4 linked regions of the Homo sapiens genome follow. The protein of the gene in region 1 interacts with the protein of each later gene in a pairwise test. Each region holds a gene or a part of one and is shown in the gene's direction. Other genes may lie near its edges.

The links.
Region 2: the proteins of ESRRA (region 1) and PROX1 interact in a two-hybrid assay, tested with the Homo sapiens proteins (one study listed by BioGRID).
Region 3: the proteins of ESRRA (region 1) and LYST interact in a two-hybrid assay, tested with the Homo sapiens proteins (one study listed by BioGRID).
Region 4: the proteins of ESRRA (region 1) and DUT interact in a two-hybrid assay, tested with the Homo sapiens proteins (one study listed by BioGRID).

The regions. Positions count from the first base shown.
Region 1 is NC_000011.10:64,300,875-64,308,544, forward strand, and holds the start of ESRRA (steroid hormone receptor ERR1), read left to right. Parts: upstream 1-4,649; 5' UTR 4,650-4,862; intron 4,863-5,003; exon of another isoform or gene 5,004-6,275; coding exon of another isoform or gene 6,276-6,305; coding exon 6,306-6,630; intron 6,631-7,670. Other genes in the region: CATSPERZ (cation channel sperm-associated auxiliary subunit zeta), read left to right, coding at 1-113, 2,608-2,687, 2,899-2,965, 3,669-3,772. UniProt on the Homo sapiens protein: Binds to an ERR-alpha response element (ERRE) containing a single consensus half-site, 5'-TNAAGGTCA-3'. Can bind to the medium-chain acyl coenzyme A dehydrogenase (MCAD) response element NRRE-1 and may act as an important regulator of MCAD promoter.
Region 2 is NC_000001.11:213,983,995-213,990,987, forward strand, and holds the start of PROX1 (prospero homeobox protein 1), read left to right. Parts: upstream 1-3,978; 5' UTR 3,979-4,489; intron 4,490-4,538; exon of another isoform or gene 4,539-4,727; intron 4,728-5,208; exon of another isoform or gene 5,209-5,315; intron 5,316-5,671; exon of another isoform or gene 5,672-6,980; intron 6,981-6,993. UniProt on the Homo sapiens protein: Transcription factor involved in developmental processes such as cell fate determination, gene transcriptional regulation and progenitor cell regulation in a number of organs.
Region 3 is NC_000001.11:235,660,889-235,667,909, reverse strand, and holds the end of LYST (lysosomal-trafficking regulator), read left to right. Parts: intron 1-3,288; coding exon 3,289-3,445; intron 3,446-3,854; coding exon 3,855-3,926; intron 3,927-4,831; coding exon 4,832-4,970; 3' UTR 4,971-6,869; downstream 6,870-7,021. UniProt on the Homo sapiens protein: Adapter protein that regulates and/or fission of intracellular vesicles such as lysosomes. Might regulate trafficking of effectors involved in exocytosis.
Region 4 is NC_000015.10:48,327,057-48,334,442, forward strand, and holds the start of DUT (deoxyuridine 5'-triphosphate nucleotidohydrolase, mitochondrial isoform 1 precursor), read left to right. Parts: upstream 1-4,372; 5' UTR 4,373-4,459; coding exon 4,460-4,739; exon of another isoform or gene 4,740-4,800; intron 4,801-5,140; exon of another isoform or gene 5,141-5,195; coding exon of another isoform or gene 5,196-5,211; coding exon 5,212-5,350; intron 5,351-7,360; coding exon 7,361-7,386. UniProt on the Homo sapiens protein: Catalyzes the cleavage of 2'-deoxyuridine 5'-triphosphate (dUTP) into 2'-deoxyuridine 5'-monophosphate (dUMP) and inorganic pyrophosphate and through its action efficiently prevents uracil misincorporation into DNA and at the same time provides dUMP, the substrate for de novo thymidylate biosynthesis.

The DNA.
Region 1 (7,670 bases):
CCACAAGCCGGAGGAACTGGACGAGCACGCGCTGGTGGAGCTGGAGTTGCACCGCGGCAGCTCCATGGAAATCAATCTGGGGGAGAAGGACACTGCATCCCAGATCGAGGCCGGTCAGTGTGGCCTCGCCAGGCCGTGGGCACCCGCAGGGCAATAAGCTGGCCAGGGACTCAATTTCTGGAGCTGTAAAATGGGGGGAAGCTGATGGGATCCAAGTTTCTAGGATTCTCTGGGAGAGGCGCCCGCGCCAATCTTTCGCCCTTTAAATCCGCCAGGCATTCTTGGAGCGCCCCCTCCCGGGCAGGCGTTGTAACAGGCCTTTCGGTCGTGACGCGCAGAGTCCGGGGAAGGACGCACCAAATAAATTGCGCAAAGACCCCGTGGTAGGACCTGCGGGGTTTTTTTGTTTTGTTTGTTTTGTTTTGTTTTGTTTTTGAGACAGGATCTCACTCTGTCGCCCAGGCTGGATGGAGTGCAGTGGTGCGATTATAGCTCACTGCAGTTCAAGTGATCCTCCCGCCTCCCACTTTTTTTTTTTTTTTTTTTTTTGAGACGGAGTCTCGCTGTGTCGCCCAGACTGGAGTGCAATGGCACGATCTCTGCTCGCTGCAACCTCCGCCTCCCGAGTAGCTGGGATTACAGGCGCGCGCCACCACGTGCGGCTAATTTTTGTATTTTTAGTAGAGACGGAGTTTCACCATGTTGGCCAGGCTGGTCTCGAACTCCTGACCTCAAGTGATCCGCCGGCCTCGGCCTCCCAAAGTGCTGGAATTACAGGCTTGAGTCACTGCGCCCGGCCTTTGTTTTTTAGAGATGACGTCCTGCTTTGTCACCCAGGCTGGAGTGCAGTGTTGTGATCATAGCTCACTACAGCCTCAAACTCCTAGGCTCAAGGTATCCTCCAACCTCAGCCACCCCCACCACCCCGAGCTGGGAGGACAGGCCGGCACCATCCTGCTCAGCTAATTTTTTATTTTTTGTAGAGAAAATTTCGACATGTTGCCCCAGCTGGTCTCAAACTCCTGGGCTCAAGTGATCCTCCTGCTTCGGCTTCCCAAAGTATTGGGATTACAAGTGTGAGCCACCATGCCCGGCGAGACCTGTGTTTTTAATGGAATCATCCCACCAGTTGCAAGAGTTAACTCCTTGTCTTATGATTTGCGCTGGTTGAGGAGGTGTACGTCTTTCCATTAGTCAGTTGCTGGTTACAATTTCTAAGCCCCTACTACGTGCTGGGCACTGTCTGGCACCCCCTCAAACTACTTCATCAGAGAGTAAGAACCAATAACAGTATAACAATGGTTACATATTGAGCACTTGCTGTGTGCCAGGCACGGGGCTTCCCCTGGATTGTCACCTTCAAACTTCACAACCTCCATAAAGAGCTATTTATTTTTTATTTATTTATTTTTATTATATTTTTTGAGACGGGGTCTCACTCTGTCGCCCAGGCTGGAGTGCAGTGGTGCCATCTCGGCTCACTGCAAGCTCTGCCTCCCAGGTTCACACCATTCTCCTGCCTCAGCCTCTGGAGTGGCTGGGACTACAGGCGCCTGCCAGCACGCCCGGCTAATTTTTTGTATTTTTAGTAGAGACAGCGTTTCACCTTGTTAGCCAGGATGGTCTCAATCTCCTGACCTCGTGATCCGCCCACCTCGGCCTCCCAAAGTGCTGGGATTACAGGCGTGAGCCAACCGCGCTCGGCTATTTATTTTTGAGTCAGATTCTCACTCTGTTGCCCATGCTGGAGTGCAATGGTGCGATCTTGGCTCACTGCAACTTCCGCCTCCCCGGTTCAAGCAATTCTCCTGCCTCAGCCTCCTGAGTAGCTGGGATTACAGGTGCCTGCCACTATGCCTGGCTAATTTTTGTATTTTTAGTAGAGACGGTGTTTCACCATATTGGCCAGGCTGGTCTTGAACTCCTGATCTTGTGATCTGCCCACCTTGGCCTCCCGAAGTGCCTGGATTACAGGCGTGAGCCACCACTTGGCCAAGAGCCAAGAGCTGTTCTTTTTTTTTTTTTTTTTTTTAGTTTTTTTTTGAGACAGAGTCTCACTTCTTCACCCAGGCTGGAGTGCAGATGTACGATCTCGGCTCAGTGCAAGCTCCGCCTCCCTGGTTCAAGTGATTCTCCTGCCTCAGCCTCCCGAGTAGCTGGGATTACAGGCACTTGCCAGCAAGCCCGGCTAATTTTTGTATTTTTAGTAGAGACGGGGGTTTCACCATGTTGGCCAGGTTGGTCTCGAACTCCTGACCTTGTGATCCGCCCACATTGGCCTCCCAAAGTGCTAGGATTACAGGCATGAGCCACCGTGCCCGGCCAAGAGCTGTTCTTATTACCCCATTTTACTGATGAAGAACTTGAGGGTCAGAGAGTGTCAGTCACTGGTCCTAAGTGTCACACTGTGGGGCAGTCATTACTGGAACCATGTGGGTGGGGCTCTAAAGCCCAGGGTTGTAACCTCTGTCCCATGCTGACCCCAAGGCTGCACCAGGAGCTGGTCTCTGAAGGCCATTCCCTCTCACAAGGTGCCTACCCATCTCCTGTGCTCCAGGGAAGGCCCAGGAGTCTGCGGATGACTAACCCTTTTTTCTCTTCTCCCAGAAAAGTCTTCCTCAATGTCATCACTCAATATTGCGAAGCACATGCCCCATCGAGCCTACTGGGCAGAGCAGCAGAGCAGGGTTGGAGGGGCTGGGGAGACTGGGCGTTTCGGTGGGGTAGGGGATAGGCAAATTGGGGGTTGATAGGATATGAAAGTTGGGGGTGGTTGGCAGGGTGGAGGGGCAGGCAGGCTGGTTGGGGGTTTGGGGGCCACAGGGAGGAGGTGGGGGCATTTCAGCTGTGGGCAGAGATGAAGTACCTGGACGCCTAAGCCTCTTGCTGCTTCTCCAGCTGCCACTGCCCCTGATGGAACTCATGGAGAATGAAGCTCTGGAAATCCTCACCAAAGCCCTCCGGAGTAAGCTCCCCGCCAACCCCCAAGAACTCCCACGACAGATTCTGGTGGATTTTGCAGGGCTGGGGCCCAGGGGGGTGGGGTTTCAGGGTGCCTTATGTCTTGTCAGATGCCCTTGGCACTCACAAGTATTCCAAGGGCCCCATAAAAGTTAAAAGCTGAGGGACTGGGCACAGGAAGACCCAGTGGGGGACATGTGGTGATGGGCAGAGGCCTGGGCTCCAGGCTGAGTGCAGCCCCTCTCCAGCTGAGGGAGGCTTTTCTGTGGCTGTTTCTCCACCTGCACAGTGGGATGACCGCCTTGGTGTGGCCTCGACTGCCTCTGGTTGGGGAGTTGTGAGGAGCCTTTGGACAGTGGATTATGTGGGTGAACTTTTGCTGCTGTGGTAGGAAAGCCCAGCGGTGATAAAGGGCCAGCTGATGGCTTAGAGTGGGTGGCTGGTCCAGAAGGTGGGCAAACTGCTCGCTACCACCGCCCTAGTTCAGGCCTGCAACCTCTTCCCTAGCCTTGACCTCATCCATCCTCCACCTTAACACTCAGCACCCTTAGAGATGCAAAGTTCCCCAGGCTAACACAGACCTGAGTGCCCTGCGCTACTGCTACCTCGAATCATCTGCGGTTCCTCGAATCACACATGCGGCGCCCCCTGGTGGGGAGACCTTTCGGTTGCTCACTGCCCTGAGCCGAGCTCTGCCCTCCTCCTAGGCTACCAGTTAGGGATCGGCAGGGACCACTTCCTGACTAAGGAGCTGCAGCGATACATCGAAGGGCTCAAGAAGCGCCGGAGCAAGAGGCTGTACGTGAATTAAAAACGCCACCTTGGGCTCGAGCAGCGACCCGAACCAGCCCCGTGCCAGCCCGGTCCCCAGACCCAAGCCTGACCCCATCCGAGTGGAATTTGAGTCCTAAAGAAATAAAAGAGTCGATGCATGGTCCGTGAGTCAGTGCAGGACAGCCCGCGTGAGGCGGACGCACGTGGCCCCGCCCTTCCCCGTGACCTTCATTCGGTCACCGCAGTGACCTTCATTCGGTCACCGCAGTGACCTTGAGCTTTCTCCGTCCGGGCCCTATCGGCCCTACCTTCCGGGACTCGCAATCCAGGACTTATTGCATGTTTTAAGTCGGCTTCACCCACCCCGAGTTCCGCAGCTCTGTGGGGCTACTGGGTCTACGGTTCGAGTGCTCAGTTGGTGTCGCTTTGGGGGAAGGGGGTAGGGGGAACGGGGCAGCACCTCCCTCCTCGCGACGGCGCGCTAGGCTCCGCCCCTCAAGCATAGGTAGCAGGTCCAGCCTCTCCGCTCGTCCCGCCCTTGCGTTTTCATCTGTAAGTGGTCTCTTGGCTCCGCGACTGCAGCCTGCACCGCCTCGCCCACTCCTCTCGCGCGCAGCAAGCCCCGCCTCCTCCGTTACGAAAGAGCGCTTCTGGCCCCACTTGCTCTCGGCTCTATTGTCCCCGCCCTCCGCGTCTCCGGCCCCGCCCCTCCCAGGGGCCGCGTACGCATGTGCGCCGCAGTGGCTCGGCGGGCTGCGGGGCGGGACCTGCACGAAGGCCCGCCCACTGGCGCTGCCGGCTCCGCCCCGACTCGTCCGGGCGCGCAGGCGCCGCCCGCCCCGCTGGTCTGATTAGCATAGGACCCCGGGCCCCGCCCCCTGCTTTGCATGCGCACGGCCGGCCCCACCCCCGCTGTCAGCTGGAGGAAGCGGAGTAGGAAGCGGCCGCGATGTCCTTTTGTGTCCTACAAGCAGCCGGCGGCGCCGCCGAGTGAGGGGACGCGGCGCGGTGGGGCGGCGCGGCCCGAGGAGGCGGCGGAGGAGGGGCCGCCCGCGGCCCCCGGCTCACTCCGGCACTCCGGGCCGCTCGGCCCCCATGCCTGCCCGACCGCGCTGCCGGAGCCCCAGGTCCGGGGGCGGAGGGGAGCGCTGCCGCGGGGGTGGGCGGGCGGGGCGCGGGGGCCATGTGCGAGCGCGGCAGGGAGGCGGGCGGGGCGGGCTGCAGGCGGGGTCCGACTCTGGGGCCAGTCCGGGCCACGGTTGGGACCCAGTCGAGGGTCGGACTGGTCAGGGTTCAGGCGGGATCCGGCGTCCGAGTCCTGGTGGGCCGGCCTGGGGCAGGATCTGGCTCTGGCTGCGGGTCCTGACTCGGGTCAGGGTTGGGCCTCCGATCCAGCCCGCTCCGGGGCAGGGTTCAATCCCGCATTTGCCGAAGTCCCTGGGGCTGGCCGGGGTGGAAGACGGGGAGGGCTCTATGTCTGGGAAGGGGCTCTGAAGACCACGTGGGGGCGCTCGAAGGGGCCTGGGGCCACCCTCCTCTCTGGGTCAAAGGTCATCGCACCGGCAGGGGAGAACTTCCTCCTCCTTGGCTCTCCCCACTTACTTCCTGATAACCTGGTAGAGGTCTCCCGCGGGCGGGGAGGGGGAGGCGTAGCAACTTTAGGCAACTTCCCAAAGGTGTGCGCAGGTTGGGGGCGGGACGCGGCGCCCCGGGAGGTGGCGGCCTCTGCGACAGCGGGAGTATAAGAGTGGACCTGCAGGCTGGTCGCGAGGAGGTGGAGCGGCGCCCGCCGTGTGCCTGGGACCGGCATGCTGGGGCAGGAGGGCAGCCGCGTGTCAGGTGTGAAAAGCTCTGGAGGTGTTTTCATGAGTCCGTGCCTGTGCGTGTGGATGTGGGGAGACCTAGTGAGAGTGTGTGTGATCATGAGCCTTGACTGAGTTCGTGGATGGGGTGTGCGCTCCAGGAGAAGTGTGTGAGCACAAGTGTGAGCAGGAGTGAGCACGGGTTTGGGAAGGCCGGTGCAAGTGTGAAAGCCCTCAGCAGAGAGCGAGCCTGCGTGGGCTTGTGGGGCTCCTGAGCACCCCGGTGAGTGGAGTGTGTGAACTCGGTGTGAGCACGTCCACTGGCCTTGGGTCTGCTCTCCAATGCAGAATACCCAGATGAGGGCAGGGTCTCAGAGGTCCCCCCAACATCTGGAGAAAACTGGGAAGTATCCTGCTCCTGGCTAGGGATTCCAGGTGGGGTTGAAGGTTGCCTGGGGGCTACGGTTACCCTGCTCCCTGGCCTGGGTGGGAGTAGGGGCTTTCTAAGCCTCCCCCAGGTTCCCAAGGGGGAGACCTGCTGTCAGTTACTGGCCCTGAAGACTCTGTTTCCATGGCAACAGCTAGGAGGGGGCAGTGTTCCTGGGCAGTCCTTCCTTGGACTCTGCCCCCCTTCTTCCCCACTTGCTGGGCTTGGAAGCCTGGCCCTAGGCCCGAGGTTGGGCAACCCGTGTGGCAGGGTGTCTCCCATCCCCCATACCAGTGCTTTCCTGCGAACCTATGGGTCTCTCCGTGCAGGTGACCAGCGCCATGTCCAGCCAGGTGGTGGGCATTGAGCCTCTCTACATCAAGGCAGAGCCGGCCAGCCCTGACAGTCCAAAGGGTTCCTCGGAGACAGAGACCGAGCCTCCTGTGGCCCTGGCCCCTGGTCCAGCTCCCACTCGCTGCCTCCCAGGCCACAAGGAAGAGGAGGATGGGGAGGGGGCTGGGCCTGGCGAGCAGGGCGGTGGGAAGCTGGTGCTCAGCTCCCTGCCCAAGCGCCTCTGCCTGGTCTGTGGGGACGTGGCCTCCGGCTACCACTATGGTGTGGCATCCTGTGAGGCCTGCAAAGCCTTCTTCAAGAGGACCATCCAGGGTGAGCCCCCAGCCCACTCCCCTGTCCTTTGCCCTGCACCCTCTGGGTACACTGCTGGGTGCAATAGGCCCCCTGATGGCTGTGGCACCGCTTGAGGCTAACAATCTGGTGTTTCCAGTCCCTCTACCTCCCAGAGACACTCTTTCCCTGAGAAGTATGGTAAAAGCACCGGGTGTGCTGATGCATTGCAGTGGATGTGAGTGAGTTCAGGGTACCACCTGGGTACTCTAGGCCCAGCACCTTCTACAGTGGCTCTGAAAGAGTCCAAGGCAGCCTCTGTCTGTTCCTAAGCTTTGTTCTTGTTTCTGGCAGCTTCTGACCTCTCCCCAGCATAGAACATGTCCCCTTTTTGTTAATTTTCCCAAAGCAGCACCAACACAAGGCAGATTTTAATTTTTTTTTTTTTGAGACAGAGTCTCACTCTGTTGTTCAGGCTAGAGTGCAGTGGCACAATCTCTGCTCACTGCAACCTTTGCCCCTGGGTTCAAGAGATTCTCCTGCCTCAGCCTCCTGAGTAGCTGAGACTGCAGGTGTGCACCACCACGCCCAGCTAATTTTTGTATTTTTAGTAGAGACGACGTTTCACCATGTCGGCCAGGCTGGTCTGGAATTCCTGACCACAAATGATCCACCTGCCTCGGCCTCCCAAAACAAGGCAGATTTTTATCAGTACTTGAGAGGGGCTACATCATAGTTTAGCACCCAACTTTAAAAAGACTAACAGGCAAGGCCGGACACAGTTGCTCACACCTGTAATCCCAGCACTTTGGGAGGCCAAGGTGGGCGGATCACCTGAGGTCAGGAGATCGAGACCAGCCTGGCCAGGGTGGTGAAACCGCATCTCTACTAAAAATGCAAAAAATTAGCTGGGCATGGTGGCTCGCGCCTGTAATCTCAGCTACTTGCTACTTGAGAGGCTGAGGCAGGAGAATTGCTTGAACCCAGGAGGCAGAGGTTGCAGTGAGCCAAGATCACACCACTGTACTCCAGCCTGGGTGACAGAGCGAGATTCCATCTCAAAAAAAAAAAAAAAAGGCCGG
Region 2 (6,993 bases), on another chromosome or scaffold:
CCCTCCATGTGCTCACCACCATCTGTTAATATCTTGGTATTGGAAAGTTCGGTGCCTGAGGCAAAGCCAGGGTTGGCGGCGAAGAGCTCCCAGCCTACACTTCACTACTCCAGGGCAGGGAATGTACTTCCCTTTGATTGTTTTCGCCCACTTCCATAAAATCAAGTAGTAGTGTGTCCCTTCAATCACTGACAACCTCCTCATCCCCGCGGGTGTGTCTTTGTGGGCGAAGAGTGATTTTCTTCGAGGTCAACTTATTGTAATTAGCCCTTTCGATGAAATTATATTTTCATGACAATTCTGCGCTCCTTAAAGCAATGTGGCAGACTCTTATTTGGGAGTGGGTTCTTTATCATTTTAAAAATTACTTTCTTTCTGCCAGCACCCCTGGATCCAAATTCTTGTAAGGGTTATATTTCAACTTCTTTGGAGTGATTGGCTTCTGTTTACTTTGAAAGCTGTTGGTTAAACAAACATCACTCAGGAGGCTTCTAAGCAGTGGGGTTCCCAGGAGAGAAAACGCTGCAGCTGCTACTTGCTACTGATCTTGTGGCATTTCACTTCCCCCCCATTCAGAACAAATCCAGGTTGGGCTTGGCGTCACACTGAGCACAGGAGATGAGAGTGAGAGGCCGTCAGTCAGTTTTGCCTCTAGAAAGCTTGCAGCAGGCAGGCCTGCACCCTGGGGTTGGTTTTCCTCTCTTCCCTTCTTCAGGGTGCTGATAGTGATGGTGGTAGTGGTGGCGGTGGTGGTGGTGGTAGCGGTGGGTGGCTGACCTGGAAGTCCTTAGGCACCCTTTTCCAAAATCCACGTCCACTTTTGCCTCTCAACTGAATCTGGTTGTAATTCTCAGAATTGGTTTGTTTAGGATCTGATAACAGTTGTTTGTAAGGTTTTAAATTACTTATACACACTGTCTTCCCTCCTGCCCCCACCTAACAGCTTTAAGAAAGAACAGGAGGCGTGAGCATACACCGAGCAAATGTCAAGGCGAAGTGTATTTAACCCAGAACCAGATGCATGGGTGATAACTGCGAGTTTGTCTAAGAACACACAGATCACCCTTCAGATAAATAAGTAAATGCAACCTGCACGGATAGAGTGTGTTACAAGACCGGTCAGAACTTGCGTTAACTTCTAAGTTACTGGGGTTGTGTTGGAAGTGGGGCGGAGGGAGGAGTTGTCTTAACCCTAGGCTTGGCGGCTGGTTTCAGAGATGGAGCCAATATCTAGGCGACTCCTTGTCTCCAGGCTTCTCCCCTATCAGAAAACAAAGCGGGAGTCGCCCGAGATAGGGGGCTCGGGCCTCAAGTCTTGTCCAGGGCAGCCCGAGACCCAGGAGAATGCCGCAGCTCTAGCAAGAGAGGTTGCCAGGAGCCTGGCCTGTACGCCTCCCCGACAGTAGAGGACAGGACACGGGACAGGGCTGCGCCGAGGCAGCTCACGGAGCTGGGCTGCGAACCGATCTCGCTCGCCTAGCGTGGCGCGCGCTCCTATTTCAAGTCGCCGCTCCTGCGCCCTAATGCGGGCTGCGAACCGCCGCGGCAGAGCGTCGCGAGCCGGGAGCCTCTGCCGCCGAGGCTGGGGGTGGGAGAGCTTCCTTGTTCGGCAAGCGGGTTACCCCGACTTCGACTCAGGCCTGCTTTTGCCCACGGCGTGACACAGGACTTACTGGGGTTCTCAGGGAACTTTTCCCGCCGCCAGTTCCCGGGCGTGGTGTGTGCAAAACGTGCATTCAAGCGCTATGTGCAATTGACACAAACTTGTGGGCTAAAGTGCAAGCCATTTTTTTCGCGTTTGAATCTTTTTCTCTGTCCCTGACTCCTTTCTTCCCCCTACTCCCCCCTCCTCCTTCTCTGCTCTCCGCCCTTTTAAATGTCAAACTGAGCAGATGGTTTTAAGGTGTGGAAAGGTATATAGCCCTTACTCCTACCAGTTTATTTGTGGGCTGGCGCTAACTTATATGTACAAACCAAGATTCTTAAAGAAAACTAGTAGGACGAAAAATAAGAAAGAAAGTAGCTTTGATCCATTCTCAGATCCCAAGTTTCCCCGCTCAATACACCCGCTTACCTCGAAGGGACCCAACCAATAGAAGCATTATTCCGTCCTGTATCTAATGGGCATGTTGATTATTTCTGCTCCCAGCCTCAACTGTCACATCCCGGTTAGAACACCTGATACAACAGTCAATAGTTGGAGGTGTGAGTGGTGCGTGTGCGCTCCTCTGTGTTGCTTCCGTGATAGACGCGTGGGGGGAGTGTGTGGGGGCGGCAAAAGGGGAAAGAAGAAGGCTGGGGATGCTCCCGCAATCTCTTTTCTTATCGCCGACACCTAACCTGACCGACCTAATTTTTTTTCTCCTTTTCACTGTTTGAAATTCGTGCCAAAAGTTTCCTGCCGGGATAGACTCGGACATACTAACATCGCTATTCTTATTCAAAGGGAGGGCTTAATATCCTCTTTACGGTTTGGTGAATTTGAGGCTGAAATTGTAAATTCCCTAGGAAGGAGTGTGTGTGTGTGTGTGTCGCAGAAGACATTGGTAGTGTTTGGCCAGTGTACTTGTAACACACCTCATAAATACCCTGTTGTCACGACACAGCATGATTCAACCTTTGATCTGATTAAATTTGAGGGACACACGAAGACTACTTGTCCTCCTCCTACTTACAAAAATGAGTGTCTAATAGACTATGTATGAATGTTTCTGCTTCGCAGCTCTTGCAAGTCCCAGCTTTTATAGGATCTTTAGGTCATAAACGCGGCTGCTTTATTAAAAGCCGTTTACTGTGCCCGGTGAAAGGGACGTTCTAGCTGCGGCTGAGGCTCGCTTGCATTTGTAACTTGCAAAGCCCAAGGAGATCTTTAAGAGCCACATTATCTAAAGAAATTTTGCTGGTTATTTTTCAAGCAAGAAATGTCAAACCAAAGTAAATTTTCTAGGGCTTTATTTTAGAGCCTGCGATTTATGCGTTTGAAATTTCTTGCCTAATAAACTTTAAAGTTTGTTGCCCAGGCGTCAAAACTGTGTAAATCCTGTATTGAACAGCTATCTTTGGTCTTTCTGGGGCGAGTGAATTAGTGAAGGGTAATCGCCAGATGTTTGCAACATATATATTTTTAAAGGCTGCTTTACCTACAATCCAACTAATGTCAGAGGTAACCAAGGGTAAATATTCCTCTTCCTGATAATTTGGACTGGAGATAAACTGGGACTCAGCCAATGTTGATCTTCGTCTAATAACAGATGCAGCGGACCCGATGTGAAACCTCTGGCACCTATTATTTTAATACCAAACCTACCTGTATTTTATTGTCCACCTCCCCTTTAAAAGGAACCAAGGGTGACACGTATCCTTGACACTACCTATGATCGTTTAAAAAGTGGAATGATTTGCAGATCCCCCCCTCCCTCCTCCTATGCCACCCCCACCCCTAAAACCCCCACTTTTTCTCCCGTATACTTTTCCGTGCCTTCCTCCACCCAAGTCGGAGGAGCGCTCACTCGCTCGGCCACTCGGCGAACTCGATCAGCTGTATCTGGGAAATGAAAAAAGAAAAAGAAAAAAAAAAAAAAAGACCTGCGTCCTGGAAGAGCTAGTGTGAGCCGGGCGCCGCTCGCGCCGTCTCCCGCTTTGCATAGTGCCCGCAGATGGCTCGCTCCGGCCCAGGCGCGGCGATCCAGTCGTCCCGAAGCTGTGGCAGGGTGGGGGTGGGGGTGGGGGCCGGGGATGGAGGCCGGGGAGGGGGAGCGCAGGGCCCCTCTCCCCTCCTCTCTTCCCAGCCCCTCACCCCCACCCCTTTTATATTTTTTTTTCCTCCCAAGTTCTCTTGCCTTGCTATCCCCCCTTGAATCCGAAGGCGCCTCGCGATTGGGTGCTGGGGCCGGGTACGTCAGATAGACTGTGACGTGCAGTCTTCCTGTTTCCTTCAGCTGTGTCTTAAAGTAAATCTTGTTGTGGAGCGGAGCCCTCAGCTGAGGGAGCGCTCTGAAATAATACACCATTGCAGCCGGGGAAAGCAGAGCGGCGCAAAAGAGCTCTCGCCGGGTCCGCCTGCTCCCTCTCCGCTTCGCTCCTCTTCTCTTCTTTACCCTTCTCCTCTCTCCTCCTCTGCTGCTCTCTCCTCTCCTCCCGCTCTTCTCTCTCCTCCTCTCCTGCTCTCTCCTCTTCCCTTAGCTCCTCTTCTTTTCTTCTCCTCTTCTTCCCTCTCCTCGCCTCTCCCCTGCTCCTCTTCTCTCGTCTCCCCTCCCCTCCCGCCTCTCTCTCCCCTCTCCCTCTCCCACTCGCCCCGCTCGCTCGCTCGCTGTCGCACAGACTCACCGTCCCTTGTCCAATTATCATATTCATCACCCGCAAGATATCACCGTGTGTGCACTCGCGTGTTTTCCTCTCTCTGCCGGGGGAAAAAAAAGAGAGAGAGAGAGATAGAGAGAGAGAGAGAGAGAGAGAGAGAGAGGCTCGGTCCCACTGCTCCCTGCACCGCGTAAGTATCTTCTTCTTCCCCTCGTGAGTCCCTCCCCTTTTCCAGAATCACTTGCACTGTCTTGTTCTTGAATGAGAAAGGAAGAAAAGAGCCTCCCATTACTCAGACCCGTGTAAACATTATTCCCCCCAGGAGAAAATGGTGTTATTCAAATGAATCATAATAAAATAGCCTCTAAACAGTTTCTAAGCGGGAGCCTCCGTGGAACTCAGCGCTCCGCTCCTCCCAGTTCCTAAGAGTAAGTGATCCTCTTGGCTTTTATTTCTTTCTCTTTCCTGCTGGTGGCTGGGGGTGGCGGTGGCGATGGGGGGGAGGCTGATGTTGCTGGACTTGTCGCTGATCTTGTCACCTTTTGTGTACTGTTTCTGGGGTGTGAGGAGGCGTTTGCTCCCTTTCCTTCTTTCTCCTGCTCTCTCTTCTCAGGAGAGAGGACCGCGAGAGGGACCGGGTCGCTTTTTTGTTCGTGGAGATCCCCGCTTTCCGCCAAACCCCATCCTTCCGATCTCCCCAGGCTAAAACTCCGGGGCCGGTCCCCTTGTCCTTTCTCTTTGTCTTGTTTATTATAGCTGCCTTTCTTCCCGGCTCTTCCAATTTGCTTGTCATTTGCATACCTTTCACTTCTCCTTTTTTAACCCCAGCAGAGGACCGGGAACTGGGAGGAGGAGAGAGGGAGGTGGGGGGGCGCTCTGTTACTTTCGTCTCAAAACGCTGTCGAAGCCGAATTGTGGAAATCCGGCTTGGAGGGGAGCGGTGATGGGTCCCGGGAAACGCGCGCGGCGCCCCTCTTCCGAGCTCCTGGACCCAGGGCTGGGTCAAGTTGAGTAGGGTAAGGCGGCACCGGGAGGCTCGGGGGGTCGCGTGGCGGTGGGATTGGGACACCAGCACGAGGAGGACCGGAGGATCGCGGGCCGGGTAAGAGTAGGGGGTTCTTGGGCAGCAGAAATGGGAGGCGATGAATCTCCCAGCCATCGCTGGCAGACTATGGTGTTGGGCAGCTTCGGTCTGGTCTCGTCTGGGTGGTACCTACCGTTTTGCCCCAGTTAGGAGGACTGGGGAGGGAGGACAGGAGAGGTGAGAGTAATTGTTACTGGGAAGACTAGTGAGGAGGGCGGGAAGAGGGAGGGAAGAGCTGCTATCTTGCCTGAGCAGATCAGGAGGGGGACGCAGTGGGCGGGGGGAGACATCACCCAAAGTCCAGTTTAGCAAGTTGTTGATTCTTCTGGTGTGCCAGCCCGTTACTCCCCCTGCTGAAGCTGAAGGTTGGTGGAGTGATGGAGCGTGGGGATGGTAAAGGAGGAGTAAGTAGCTTTCCACAGACTCCCAGGTCTCTGGCCCCTTCCCAGCTTCTTGGGAAATTGAGAGCCCTCCAGGCAGACAGAGAACAGAACTAGAAGGAGGGGTGGTGCTTAGTCTTAAATAGCTCAAGGAGGCAGGTTGGAGTGTGAAACTGCTGTTCTTGGCAACCCAGAAGGCTACTCTGCCTGGGGGAAGGCTGGAAACTCACCTGCTTGTTTTTATTTTTCCGAGAAGATCTGTGCTGTCTCCTTGAGCTTATAAAAACAGAGGAAGCACAGGGTGGCCTCCTCGCAAAGTCAAGGCTAGAAGACTCCCTTCTCCTGTTCTCTTTTCCACTCATGCCCTCCCTTATTTAAAAAAAAAAAAAAAAAGAAAGAAAAGAAAAAAAAAAGAACTCATTTCCTTTCCTAACCTAGGTAGGCAGAAATCTATTAGCAGAGTGCGCATGGGCAGGGCCTGACAGGTGTGTTGTGTCAAGAAAGACAGGTGCAAATTTCCTCTGTGTCTGTGTGTGTCTGTACAGCTCTAGACCACAATGCTTGCTCGAGGGTTGGAGAGGTTTATGAATTTATGGTTGTCCTGGTTAATAGGATTGTCTGGGCTAATGGGAATTGGGCTGTTGTTCTTTTGAGCCCTGCCATGTGAGTTCTTGGGGTGGGGGGTGGGGGCAAGTTGGTATGTGTTTGTTTATTTTTCTTAAGGATATTGGCAGTCTACTGCTGAGGCTGTGTCCCAGGCTTCTGTCTGCCAGTCAGCCCAAAGCACCCCCACTTTAGGCAGCAGGTGGAGGGAGACTGACTTTTCCTTTGCTTCCTACCAGTTTATGCCTATCTCCCAGGTCTGTGCTTGGCAGAGAGAGAGAGAGAGAGAGAGAACTGTCGTGTGTGTGTGTGTGTGTGTGTGTGTGTGTGTGTGTGTGTGTTTGTGTGTGTGTGGTGTATGCTTTGGATAGCAATGAGTGGTGTGTAACTGCCAAGAATTCCAAAGTCAGTTTGAAAGTGTTACTGTTGTTAAAGCTTATCTTTTTAAGCATGCTTTCTCCTTGCCCAGAAAGAATAGGTATGTACATAAACTCTTTCAAGTCATATGTTAAATAATCTCATAAAGTAGAATGAGCCTGTCATTGTCCCAGACATGTGCCAAATGTCCTAGATATGAATTTGATGGAGAAAGAAAATCTCAAGTACATGAGAAGGTAACTGTGCTTT
Region 3 (7,021 bases), on another chromosome or scaffold:
TGGGTAGATCACGAGATCAGGAGATCAAAACCATCCTGGCTAACACAGTGAAACCCCATCTCTACTAAAAATTCAAAAATTTAGCCAGACATGGTGGCACTCGCCTGTAGTCCCAGCTACCCAGGAGGCTGAGGCAGGAGAATCGCTTGAAGGAAGCGGAGGTTGCAGTGAGCTGAGATTGTACCGCTGCACTCCAGTCTGGGCAACAGAGCGAGACTCCATCTCAAAAGAAAAAAAAAAAAGAATACAGGAGGATGTGCAGAGGTTATATGCAAATACTACACCATTTTATATCAAGGACTTGAGCATCCATGGATTTTGATATCCTCAGGGGTCCTGGAACCAATCCCTCTCAGATACCTAGGGACAACTATATTATGTGCCTGTGCTGTATGTGTAACATCTTCTCAAAAGTTACATTGTCAAGCTCATTCCTCCTGATCATAATTTCTCAGTTCTTATGATGGGATATGGTTTTTATAGTGATAAGATGTGAAATGTATTAAACTGTGAAAATGTAATCAGTGATTTCTGGGGGGGTTGTATGTGTGTTTACCATTCTATCACTGGATCAAAATATATGCCTTTGAACTAAGGTGAGACATCCATAGCCTGGTCCTCTGTTGCCAATGGCAAGATAGAGTTAGTAAAATATTCTAAGATTCACAGTGGGGTGGTTCTTTAATTTATTTTGATTTTCATGACTGTGTATACGAAGGATAGAGATGCTTTTTAGGAATGCCTAGGTTTCTGACTTTTAGTTGATGTGTTAAATTATACATTCGAGCAATCTGGTATTGGGTAACTGTCAAATTTTGATACTTACAGAAGTAGGCAGATGAGTAGTTATTTGGTTTTGTGGTAGCCCAAGTTACTGAGTGAGCTGCTAGGATAATTCTTTGGCTACTAAGTTCCAGGCCATACTTGAGAGTCCAGGCCCACATTTAGATTTTTTATTTTGAAGGATTAAGCCATGCAGTAGTGGTAGCTATGGGTTACAGCGAGAAACCCCTACCTCAATATCTTTTATGGCTATGTTTCCAGTGACTTCAATGAGCCTTCTAGCCTTACTAGTACTTATCTAATTATTTTATCTTTTAAAAAAATATTTTAGCCAACATTTAATTCAAAAGAAAGGTTGAAATGTAGCCTACTCATGGAAAATATTGTCTATAATTCTATTTCTTTAGCATACTGAGTCTCCTGCATCTTGATGCTATATTTAGATATAATCAATGTTCTACAATGGGAAAACTTAGTAGAACATTGGGCATGTGTGTGTGTGTGTGTGTGTGTGTGTGTATGTGTGTGTGTGTGTGCATGTGTGTCTCAATGTATATTTAAATAAAATTTGCCATTCCAGCCATTTTTTAAGTATTCAGTTCAGTGGCATTAATTATATTAACAGTGTTGTGCAGCCATCACCACTATTTCCCCATTCCTCCTCCCTCAGCTTCCAGCCCCTGGTAACCTCTATTTTACTTTCTATCTCTCTGAATTTGCCCATTGTAGATATTTTATGTAAGTGGAATCATACAGTACCTGTCTGTTTGTGTCTGGCTTATTTCACTTAGCATGATGTTTTCAGGGTTCATCCATGTTTTCGCATGCTTCATTCCTTTTTACGGCTAAAGAAAATTGTGTGTGTGTGTGTGTGTGTGTGTGTGTGTGTGTGTGTGTGTGTATGTACATACTGCATTTTGTTTATGCATCTGTTGATAGACATTTAGGTTGTTTCCTCTTCTTGGCTATTGTGAATAATGCTGCAACACACTGGGCATTTTGATCTGTGGTATTTGGCGGTCTTTGGCATATTTTTAAATAAAGAAGCATTGTTTATATGTTTCTTTGCTATAAAATATGAAATATTTTCATTGTCTTAATAAAAGACAGAAGCAAAGCCTCTACTTATATGTAATGAAAAGATAAAATTAAATGTAGTGAGACTATGTCATCAAACTTTATCGTGCCTCCTAACCGCTTTATCAGTATGAGAGTATTTCCCCAGAGAAGGCTGGACATATCATCATCAGCCCCCAAACCATCCTGTTTATAAAGCATGGCAGGCAATTATGCTTCCCCCAACCCCAGAAAACTAAAAGAAAAACTTTTGGTTACTCTGTAATCTTTGAAAAGAAAAAATTAATAAGGTATTGCTTTATAAGATTTAATCTTAGATGTTCTGAAGAATACTTTTTCTTCTTTTTTTAAGAATTAAGTTTTAACTCAGGTAATTTTTACTACACCTTTTTTTTTCTTCAAAAGTCACATAAGTCACTTTTTTTTTTTTTTTTTTTGAGATAGAGTCTCTGCTCTGTCGCCCAGGCTGGAGTGCAGTGGCACTATCTCGGCTCACTGCAACCTCCACCTCCTGGGTTCAAGTGATTCTTCTGCCTCAGCCTCCCTAGTAGCTGGAACTACAGGCGCCCGCCACCACCCCTGGCTAATTTTTTTGTATTTTTAGTAGAGATGGGGTTTCACCATGTTAACTAGGCTGGTCTCGAACTCCTGACTTCAGGTGATCCACCCGCCTCGGCCTCCAAAAGTGCTGGGATTACAGGCATGAGGCACCACGCCTGGCCAAGTCACTTCTTATAGATGGTTTCACAGAATATTTCCTTCACTTTTTGGAGACTGTTTAGCTTTCCAAGTATTTTCAATCATAACTCATATTTGGTGGTTCATATGCTGAAATATTACAATTACACAAAGATGATTATTTTACCTTGTTACTGTACACATAGATTGCTTCTTCTTATTTTTATTTTTTCGCTGGTTATTGTCTCTTGATTAATACATAAAGATCTATGCAACTTGGCCTGGTGCAGTGGCTCACGCCTGTAATCCCAGCACTTTGGGAGGCCGAGGTGGGCTGATCACTTGAGGTCAGGAGTTCAAGACTAGCCTAGCCAACATGGCAAAAACCCATTTCTACTAAAAATATAAAAATTAGCCGGATGTGGTGGCGTGCACCTGTTGTCCCAGCAACTTAGAAGGCTGAGGCAGAAGAATCTCTTGAATTCAGGAGGCAGTTACAGTGAGCCAAGATCACACCACTGCACTCCAGCCTGGGCGACAGAGTTAGACTCTGTCTCAAAAGAAAATGAAAAAGAAAAATCTGTGCAACTTGTGTAGTAATTTCATTTATACAGTCTTCAGTCATGGGTTGTCTACAAACTTCATCAATAAACAAATGAGCTTGCCCTTCAGGGTTGCCCTTCTGGGGCCAAATGTGGGCTCTGAGACAGCCACATTCTGGTAACCCGCCGGATGATTTGGGTGTTTTAGCTGGCGGAGGCAGTGACCTCAGACTCTGGACGGTGAACGGGGATCTCGTTGGACATGTCCACTGCAGGGAGATCATCTGTTCCGTGGCTTTCTCCAACCAGCCTGAGGGAGTATCTATCAATGTAATCGCTGGGGGATTAGAAAATGGAATTGTAAGGTAAGAGGAATTTGGATTCTCTTTTTTTGATTTCATTCATAAGGACACAGGAGTTTCAGAAATTAATTTTTAATATCTAGGCATATTAATATTCAGTATTTAGAGATTTAAACTCACCTTGGGGTGTAGGTTCTTTAGTTATTCCTGTTTTATTTCTAAATAATAAAGATAGCTTTAGCACAGTTTTGAAGTTTTATGTTAACTATAAAAGATTAACAGTATGGAAGTATACAAAGTTAAAAGTTCTCTTATTCCCACATCTACCCCCTGCAAACTCCCTAGAGGGAACTACTGTTAATTGTTTGTTACATTTCCTTCCACATGATTTTTAACAAATAAACAAATATAGAGGGCTTTTTAGGGAGAGTAATTTTAGTTTGCATAATTAGATGATTTTTTTCCCCTCTAGGTTATGGAGCACATGGGACTTAAAGCCTGTGAGAGAAATTACATTTCCCAAATCAAATAAGCCCATCATCAGGTAAGATCTTCTCCCCCTCTTATGCTTCAGAATACAATTTGTGATTGTATTTTTCGTAGAGAGGTATTTAAGCACACAGACTTAAAGAAATGTGCAATTGAAGTCATCATGAAAAGCCAACCACTTAACACACAGCGGGTTGTCCGTGACCCAGCAGCAAGAGAGACCACACTCCTTGTCTTCATGGAGCTTAAAATCCGAGTCAGTGACTCAGAGTCTAGTGGAAAGGCATGCTTGTAGTGTGTCTCTGGAATCATAGAGACTGTATTTTTTCCTTTCATATTTGACAAGACCATAATGGTGATTGATAGCTGCAGGGGTGCTTGACAAAATAGATAAATAATCAGTTACTCTTTGCTTAGTTAACAAATTTGACTTTAAATAATTAGAAATAAAGTGATTCAAATTTTACTTTATTAAATTAAATGTATTTTCAGTGTACTAAATTTAAAGTTTAAGGAACCTAAATTAATTACTAATGTTACATTTTTTTCCTTTTCTCTTTTAGGGAAATAATATATAGCCATAAAATACTTATTTATCTTTATAAGGAGAAAATATAGTACTGTTATATTTTTAAAAGTTTTGTACACCCAAATATTTGTTGTTTATGTAATAAAGCATAAACAAGGAGGCAAAAGAAGATATGCAAAGAATAGAATGTACTGAGCTTTGTGATCCTGATTTTATTCTATATCACCGCATTTATGAGCATCTCAACTTGTCAGCAGAGTGACTATGTTAGAATTACAGTCAAAACCAATGAGTTGTAGGCAGTCATTTAGTTTATGTCTCTCTGCGCCACTGAAGATAACTTCTTTACACTAACCTCAGTATGATGACCAATATGCTAATACACTTTTAAGAAATATAATGTACAAATGGGAATTTTTTTTTTTTTACAGCCTTACATTTTCTTGTGATGGCCACCATTTGTACACAGCAAACAGTGATGGGACCGTGATTGCCTGGTGTCGGAAGGACCAGCAGCGCTTGAAACAGCCAATGTTCTATTCCTTCCTTAGCAGCTATGCAGCCGGGTGAATGCGAATGAACTTCACGTTCTCCAAAGCACTTTAACTCCAAACTAGATTTGTTGACTTCACCAGTTTTAGGAGGTTGAACCTAAAGAAATGGATGACTGGACAAACCATCCAAATAATGATAAAGTCTATTCATCTGCACAAAATTCTGAAGAGTCACATGATCCTAAGAGGAAAGTTCTGTTCTATTTTAGTGATAATCTGGAAGATTGTGTCAATATGCACTAGCCAACAAGTTTTAAGCCTCGCATGGTACATTAAAATGATATTCTTAAAATTTTTTCCCACCAAGGTATTCCAAAGAAAATATTAAGGTCTCCCCTTTTTCTATGATTCCAAAAGGACCAGTAGAATTTAAATTGGTTGGTTGATTGTTTATATAAAACACACTAAAATTATATTTTAAAAGTTTACTGCCATGAAATACTCCTCCCACCACACACACATGCTCCAAAAGAGGAAAGAAAAAAAGATAATTTTTAGGACTTGATAATTGCTTTCTTTGAGAAGCAAATTATTCAGTAGGTGCCTCTGTACCAAATATTTTATGGAATATCTAAATACTAAAATAAACTATGAATGAATCTCAAAATTAGGCAGTTTTTGCCAGTTGCTTTCTTAGCTCAAAGGAGAACCAGAATTTTTTTGACAGCCACAAACAAGAATACAGGTATCTTGGATTTCAGACACATTCTGTTTCTTCATAAAAATTTTACTTAAAATCTGTAACGCTAGATATTGACTATCCTTAGTTGAGTCACTGAGGTTTAAACACAATGGTAAGTCTTAAAGTCTGCTATTTACAGAGCATTGAATCTGTACCAATTTGCAATAGAAAGCCTTCAGTATGCAAGAAGTTTGCATGGGTATTAAGAACACAGCCTAAATAAGGCATTTGATCTAATCTGCAGGAAGAATTTTCTTCCCCAAAACAGAATTATAAAAGCTTACTTTAAACAGGAGGCAGAATAATTCTTTTAGGAAACCATTTCATTCTGTTTCTACTAACCTATACCATCTGAGAATTCTAGGAAGAATAATAAAATCTCGTGTATTCCACAGCAAACTTACATACCATAAAGACAGAATTCCTAAACATCTTGGAGCCGTCTGTCTCTCCCATATGATGGCTGTCTGTATATTTTTACTTGGGGTGCTGCTTTATTGGCTTTGAAAACACTGTCAGATAAGCTCAGTAATATGTTACCATGGGATAAAAATATGTATCCCTGCCTAAGAATAACTTGTGCATTTGTTATGGAAATTTAATTCATATGGTGTTTACAGTACTACTTTTGTAACTTCCAGACTTTCTAAAACATTCTGCTTAAAAACCATATAAAATATAATTCCAAAGTCTCTGCTGTCAAGATAGATTCGAGAGAAAGCACGTGGCCATGTATGCTTTAACCTTAAACTGCATACACATGTAGTGATACCTAGGCTGCATTTAGATCACCGTGTGCTCAGGCCAGGTGTGAATCCTGAGGTCCATGGAGGTGCAGAGATGAGATTACTCCTATTCACGTTGAAGTGATTTGCTTTGTTAACAAAAAATTGCAGCTATTGTCTAGCTTTCATTTTTTTACTGAGAACTTTAAATTAGTCCCCTATTAGAATAGGGTTGCTACTCATCTTTTTTTAAAAACCGAATTTCATCATTTATCTAAAGAGAAAATATGCAGAATAACTGGTCTTGTTAAGAGTGCAATATTATATTTTTATGTAAAAATAAAAATTAATTTGGGGGGATTATTTATTCAGCATGAAACCTAATATGTATATGTTTGAAATACTTCATAATGTGCATGTTGTAGCAAACATTTCTGTAAATTATCACAAGCTCTGTTACCTTTATATACACTGCCTCTTCAATTTGGAAATAAATTTCATAAAAATAGATGTAAACACCTCTTCTTTAAGCTATTTAAATATTATGAGCAGATCTCAAATCGATGGCTTTCTGTGTAACCCACATAGGTTCTGTCTTTAGCTCCACTATGCATTTATATCACTAGAAAAAGATAACTTTCTTTTTTTTTTTTTTTTTTG
Region 4 (7,386 bases), on another chromosome or scaffold:
ACACTTACCTATCCAAAACCTGACTGGCACCTTATCCTATGGTATAAAAACCTCTGGGCTTGAAACAAAGGAGCACTTCTAAATTTTGGTACCAGAACCCAAAGTATGGCTTCTGTCTTTTTTTGGCTTACACATATTTCTATTAAGCGTGAACTGTGGCATGATAAATGAGTATTTTGTTCCATGATGGAATGTTCTAAATTGAAATATAGATTCCTTCAGTTATAGGAAATGATGACAATTTTCCATTAATTTTTTCAGTTCTTCCATTCCTCAATGATCGCCAAAGAACATATTCCCCCGAGGAGGAGTTTGAGAGTTTTGTTCAAACTCACAAAAAACTAAGACAGCTCAACTGTCTATTGGAGATCCTCTCCATGGGAGGTTTGGGCAGAAGGACAGTGATCCAGATGGAGGTCGGAGATGAGAAAGAGGAGCAAAGAAAGTAATAAAAGCATGGGTAAATATTTTTTTAATGACTATAAAAAGTAGTAAAATAATGATGCTTATTGAGATTAAAAGATACATTTAATACACTAGACAGTAATAGCATATTTGTCAAAAGAAGGGTTAATGGTGTTAAAGCAGTCTAAGGTCCTTGAGTTATCCAGAAGACAATCATTTTGATTAATTTTATATTTTAGACACTGTATGTTTTAATTTATTTAAAATAATAAAACTAAAGAGTAAAACATCTAAATTAGAGGGGAAAGGTGAAATAAAAAACATTTAGTAAATTTCACAGAAGGCAGGAAAAGGTTTTAAAAAGGAACATCTGAAACCCAAATTAAGATAGGTTTAAATCCATCATGAAGGTTATATGATAGTGGAGGAAACAAACAGCTAACGAGTCAAGTGAATATACATGTAATTTTACATAGCAATATATACTATGCAGAAAAACCCAACAGGGTAAAGCATTAGATGCTGCCTAGGAGGAGACTATTTTTAGGTAAGGGAAGACCTAAGATAGAAAGAGGAGGTAAGTAAGACTCCAAGGGTTTTTATCGTGAGCAATAACAGGTTGAGAAGGGAAGAGGAGCCAAGGAGACTGAGGAGACAGCCAGTGAAATGGGAGGAAGTGTTTCAAGAAGGATGGTATGATCAACTGTGAAATTAAGAATGCTTGGCTTATTTACTACAAACATCTCTCCCAGACCTGGAAACACAGCCAGTAGCAAGGTCAGTATTAAGTTACCACAAGGCCAGGCACAGTGGCTGATGCCTGTAATCCTAGCACTTGGGCAGGCCAAGAAAGGCGGATTGCTTGAGCCCAGGAGTTCAAGAGACCCGCCATGGGCAACATGGTGAAATTGCATCTCTACAAAATGTACGAAAAATTAGCCAGGCGTGGTTGCACGTGCCTGTAGTCCCAGCTATCTGGAAGGCTGGGGTGGAAGGACCACCTGTACTCCAGCCTTGGTGACAGAGTAAGACCTTGTCTCAACATCAACAACTGCAAAAGAGTTACCATAGACTCAACAGGGGACATATAAATCTACAGCGCACAGTGGCTAAACGCAAGGGTTCTGAGGCCAGACTATCTGAATTGTGGTTTAACCTCCTTCTAGTTGTGATCTGTGTGATCTTGGGTAAGTTATTTAATCACTCTGTGCTTTGGTATCCTCATCTGTAAAATGGGGATAAAGAATTTGTTTCCTCTAGTTGTCATGATTAAACGAGTTTTTTTTTTTGAGACAGGGTCTCACTCTGTTGCCCAGACTGGAATGCAGTGGCATGATAATAACTGTCTGCAGCCTCCCAACTCCTGTGCTCAAGTGATCCTCCCACCTCTGCCTCCTGAGTAGCTAGGGCTACATGTGCCTGCCACCCACCATGCCTGGCTAATTTTGTATATGTTTTGTAGAGATGGGGTCTGCCTACGTTGCCCAGGCTGGTCTCGAACTCCTGAGCTGAAGCAATCCTCCCACCTTGACCTCCCAAAGTGCTGGGATTACAGGTGTGAGCCACTGCACCCAGCCAATTTTTTTTTTTTTTTTTTTTTTGCGACGTCGTTTTGCTCTTGTTGCCCAGGCTGGAGTGCAATGGCGCAATCTCAGCTCACCGCAACTTCCGCCTCCCGAGTTCAAGCGATTCTCCTGCCTCAGCCTCCCGAGTAGCTGGGATTACATGAATGTGCCATCACATGCGGCTAATTTTGTAGTTTTAGTAGAGACGGGGTTTCTCCATGTTGGTCAGGCTGGTCTCGAACTCCCGACCTCAGGTGATCCGCCCGCCTCAGCCTCCCAAAGTGCTGGGATTATAGGTGTGAGCCACCACGCCTGGCCTCGAGTTAATATTTTTTAAAGCACTTAGAATACACCTGACATAAAGTAGTAACAATGTGTATCTTTGTTAAAATGAGAGAGAAATCCCCAAAATGGCAAAGATAGGAAAAACAACCATGCTTTTCAAGTACTGACTTGCATTTTCAGAAGGTTCAAATTGGCACTAGACTTAGGTAATTGAATTAATCAGCATGACTGATAGGATAACTATAGTCTGATAAAGAAAACACCATGAAGGGCAGGGTGCGGTGGCTCACGCCTGTAATCCCAGCACTTTGGGAGGCCGAGGTGGGCGGATCACCTGAGGTCGGGAGTTCGAGACCAGCCTGACCAACATGGAGAAACCCCATCTCTACTAAAAATACAAAATTAGCCAGGCGTGGTGGCGCATGCCTGTAATTCCAGCTACTTGGAAGGCTGAGGAGGAGAATTGCTTGAACCTGGGAGGAGGTTGGGGTGAGCCGAGATCGAGCCATTGCACTCCAGCAAGGCTCTGTCTCAAAAAAAAAAACAAAAACTATGAAGTAAATTATGGTTGAAACATGTTTAGTTCTTAACTGCAGTATCTTGCATTTAAGGTGTATGTTCATAACAAGTTATATTTCTATTGTCATAAAGAACGTTCTATTAAATGCTTACTGGCTCAGAATCCTATTACTTTTTGCCAGTTAGATTATGGCCGTTTCTCTTTTAGTCTAAAATAAACTCAGCTGAAAAGTAACAATAAACACTTTATGTATACAGATTAACAACAAAAAATAGAAGGTAACCTGCTTGGTGTTAGATATTGTAATAAGCCAAACAAGTAACTTTTGTGTAAACACTGAAGTAAGTGCTTTGAAGAATTCATAAAAGTTTATGACTCTAATTCATGTGAGAGATAAAATGCATATACATCAGAAGATTACACAATGAAAGTATATGGCTAACGACTAATGAATGATATAGTAAGTGTTAAAAGAGATAAGATGGGGCAGAGGTCACTACTGATTGTAAAAAGTTTCATGAATGAAGCGAGACTTTTATCTGGGTCTAGGAAAATGAAGTCGTTACAATCATTACATCTTAGTACAAGCAAGGAATCAAATAGTATGTCTCTCATGTGAACATTTTAAGTAAATAACTGGAGAAAGTACTTCAACAAAATAAGGGAGCAAAATAATGTTGGCTCAAAATGAGGTCGAAAAGTTGCAGGGCTCGGATCGTGTTGCTAAAGGCATAAATTTGGGAGTCCTCAAGCTGTAGCTAATAGTTAACGTCCAGAGAAGGTAGTGTATATTCCATAGCCTCATGCAAAGGAATTCCAACTACGAAGACGAACCAGTTAAGGAGACCGAAAAGGGGGGGCCTGTATGGAAAGGCATAGCAACGAATGTAAAATTTCCCCAATAATACTCTAAAACTGCCCCACAGCTTTTTTAATTTTGAAAATTCAAAACCATTCAATTCAGCTCGCAGATTTTTGTGAGAAATAAGGAGATACTTGCAGCTCAGAAAAAATTATTAACAACTATCTAGAAAGTTACTGCTTTATCCCCCACTGTAAACTATACTACCACGACCCGGGATCCTTGTTCGACTCCTAGCCAAGGGGTTCCCACTGCGTTTCTGTTGGGTTATCCCAAACCTGTGATAGGATAGTAGCGCCCTCCCTGCCTCCGGTCGAATAAACACTACAACGTCTGACACTCGGTGCTGAAAGGAAATCGGGCGCGGTGTCTTGCCCACAGCTTGGGGAGCGGCCCCGGGCGCAATAACTGTCACCGGCGCCGAGATGCGGTTCCGGCGCTTAGGGCGCCGCTAAACTCAGAGCCCGGGAGTCATGGCTGCGGGCGGTGCCGCCCCAGGTAAATCAGTCCAGGAGCAGGGCCCGGGCCTGGCGTACACTCTCGGAAAAATGGGGGCCAGAGCAAACAAGAAGAGCGAAAGCAAGAGGGCTAGGCAGCCAGAGGCGGCAGCAAGACTCAAGACGCCAACGGCGCCGTCTTCCTGGGGCCCCAGGGCCTGCGCCATCCCTGGGCTGCCGGGGCACCGCCTCTCCACGCCCCTCGTCCGGCGGCGGCTGCGACTGCTTCCGAGGTCATGTTCCCAGGACGGGCGCGTCTTCAGGGTGGAAGCCTGGCGCACGTCCGGAGGTGCCGAGGACCCAACCAGCCCAAACTCTGGGGGAAATGACTCCCCTCTGCCCTCGCCCCGCGCTCTGCTACCATTTCCTTACGTCTCTGCTTCGCTCAGCGATGCAAAACGCGCGAGGCGCACGGCAGAGGGCCGAAGCCGCGGTACTCTCCGGGCCAGGCCCGCCCCTCGGCCGCGCCGCGCAGCACGGGATTCCCCGGCCGCTGTCCAGCGCTGGCCGCCTGAGCCAAGGCTGCCGCGGAGCCAGTACAGTCGGGGCCGCTGGCTGGAAGGGCGAGCTTCCTAAGGCGGGGGGAAGCCCGGCGCCGGGGCCGGGTAGGAAAGGCGGGGGAGGGGCTCCGGCCGTCTGGAAGGAATCCACGCGGCTTGAGGCTGTGGGGGAAGTAGGGTGGCGAGCGGTCCTTCTGCGCGCGGGGGGCGGGGGGGGTGGGGTGGTCCATTAGGGTCCCCTGGCGAGGGGGCGGCTTTCTAGTGTGTGAGGGCGACGCCCTAGAAGCTCCCCTTCAAAGTTGGCCCCACGCGCTGAATGTGGAAAGTTGACTGGGACCCAGTAGTTTCCCATCCCAAACCTGCTTTCCGAGAAGGGCTTCAAACCCAAAATGTGAATCCCGCCTCCCCTCTCAGCCAGAACTGTGGACTCGTCCCGGGGAGGGGCGGTGGGTGGGGCGGGGCTGGCGGGAAATTTCGGTTTTGGCGCGCTCCCTGCGGCGACGCTCATCGTGCGCTCTCCTCTTCCCCCGGTGGTCTCCTCGCTCGCCTTCTGGCTCTGCCATGCCCTGCTCTGAAGAGACACCCGCCATTTCACCCAGTAAGCGGGCCCGGCCTGCGGAGGTGGGCGGCATGCAGCTCCGCTTTGCCCGGCTCTCCGAGCACGCCACGGCCCCCACCCGGGGCTCCGCGCGCGCCGCGGGCTACGACCTGTACAGGTGAGCGGGGACCTGCCGGCGAGGAGGCTGGGAAGGGCCGGCCGTCCGCTGCCACAGCTAGAAACAGTCACCGGAGAGATCACAGGAACACACTAGCTATAAATAGGATTTCTGCCTTTTTCGTGTTTAAAATTTTAGCTTTCATCTTTGGCATAAATTAAATAGAGATTTGGGCAAAGACTGCAGAATAAGTAAAATAGCTATACGGTGTCTAGCAAGGCGTTACTTTGCAACGTTTATTGTGCCCTTCCTAAATAGAAGATAGAGAGGAAGGCCCATGGTGGCTTTCGAGTGGCCCGAGGGTGATGCTGTGCTCAATAGAAAAACCAAGGTGAGAGCCTAGATGTGAGCGTGAAAATACCTAAGAAGGATGAACGAAGATGCATCTGCCTTAAAAAGTTATTTTCTATACATTCATCCGGCCCAGGGCGGAATTTGAGAAGGCATCTGAAAACGAAAGGCAGAGCTGCCTGTAATCTACCACACTTTCATCTCTACAGCACGTTTTACCTGTACTAAAAACTTTCCGTATGCTGTTGTATTTAGTCCTCACAACAATCCTTAACTAGATAAGTGTTACTTTTTACACAGGCAGGAGTTTGTGAAGAGCTGAATTGATTTCCCCAGAGGCTTGAAGATGATATAATTTTTTATCCCGAATTTTGGGCTTTTTTTTTTTCATCTGACTACTGTGCCCAGTTCTTAGAACCATTAAGGTAGGAGAAAAGTAATGCTGAGAGGGAAGGAGATTTTATACTAAATCCCAAGCATTGGGATTTATTTTAAAGTATCTCAGATAATTCAAACATGAGAACTATTAGTCTAAGCACAGGAGAAGAGAAAGTAGTGCCTGATGATAGCAACAGAAAAAAAAGGAAAAGGAAAGTAGGTATGGACAATTGTAGCTGGAAAAACTACAGTCTCTTAATTTTGATGAATAAAAGTAGAGTGATATAGTTTGACTAGACCTTTCCAAAGTATATTTTGGAGCACTTTCTTGAGTCCTAGGGGAGTCCTTGATTTAAGATACCTTAAGTAGACTCCTAATAAACACAGGTGACTTTCTGTATACTGAAATTGACATGGAAATAATGGATCAGCAATAAATTAGGGCTTAACTGTTTAAAGAGGGATTTCAGTGAAAGAAGGGGTAGTACTGCTTTACCAGAGTTAATTAAGGTCTCCAAAGTAAACTTCCGGTTCTGCTCATTGTAAAATCTCTTAAATTTCTACCCAGGAGAGGGCCACAGTAATATCAAGAGTAGCAGCATTTGCTATGTGGACTTTAGAGGAATTCTGTTCCTAAGCAAGGTCCATCTCCAGGGGCCGTTCACGGTGATCAGCTGTCTCCCTCAGCCAGGAAATTCATAGCCTAAGCTTGGTAAACTACCAAGCCCTGCCTGACAGATACAACACAGTTCTTTATCTCTTATTTTGTCCACCCGTTTTTCTCCTTTCCTTCTGCATATTTTCCCTAATCACACAGATCATTGTGAGAATAAAATGGGTTAATATATGTAAACCAATTAGAACTGTTCCTGGCACACAGTAAAGGCTTAATCAATGATAGCTAGTATTATTAGTAGTATTTGGCCTTTTTTCTTTGTTCTTTCTTCATTTTTTTCCTTTTCAAACTATGGTTGTAAAGCATCCACCTTTTGAAAGTTTGCCTTTCTGCCCTTTCACGCTGATAAGTACCTCAGTTTCCAATAAACTTTTGTTCAGGGGCAAACATTTACAATGTTGACATCTCTTCACACCACCAAAAATATTCATGGAGAATTATTTTATCTAAAGCTGTCTTTTTAATAATAAAATAGCCACCTCTACCTTCTTCATAAACTTTTAAGATGAATTGGTAATTCATCATAGCAAGGTTGATTTTAGAAACTAAAGTTGCATTAATTCATTAAATACACTGAAAGTAATTTTGTATGCTTGGTCACAAAGAAAATATAAAAACAATTTTATAAATAGATTTGCAGTTATTTTCTTTCAATATTTTCTTAGTGCCTATGATTACACAATACCACCTA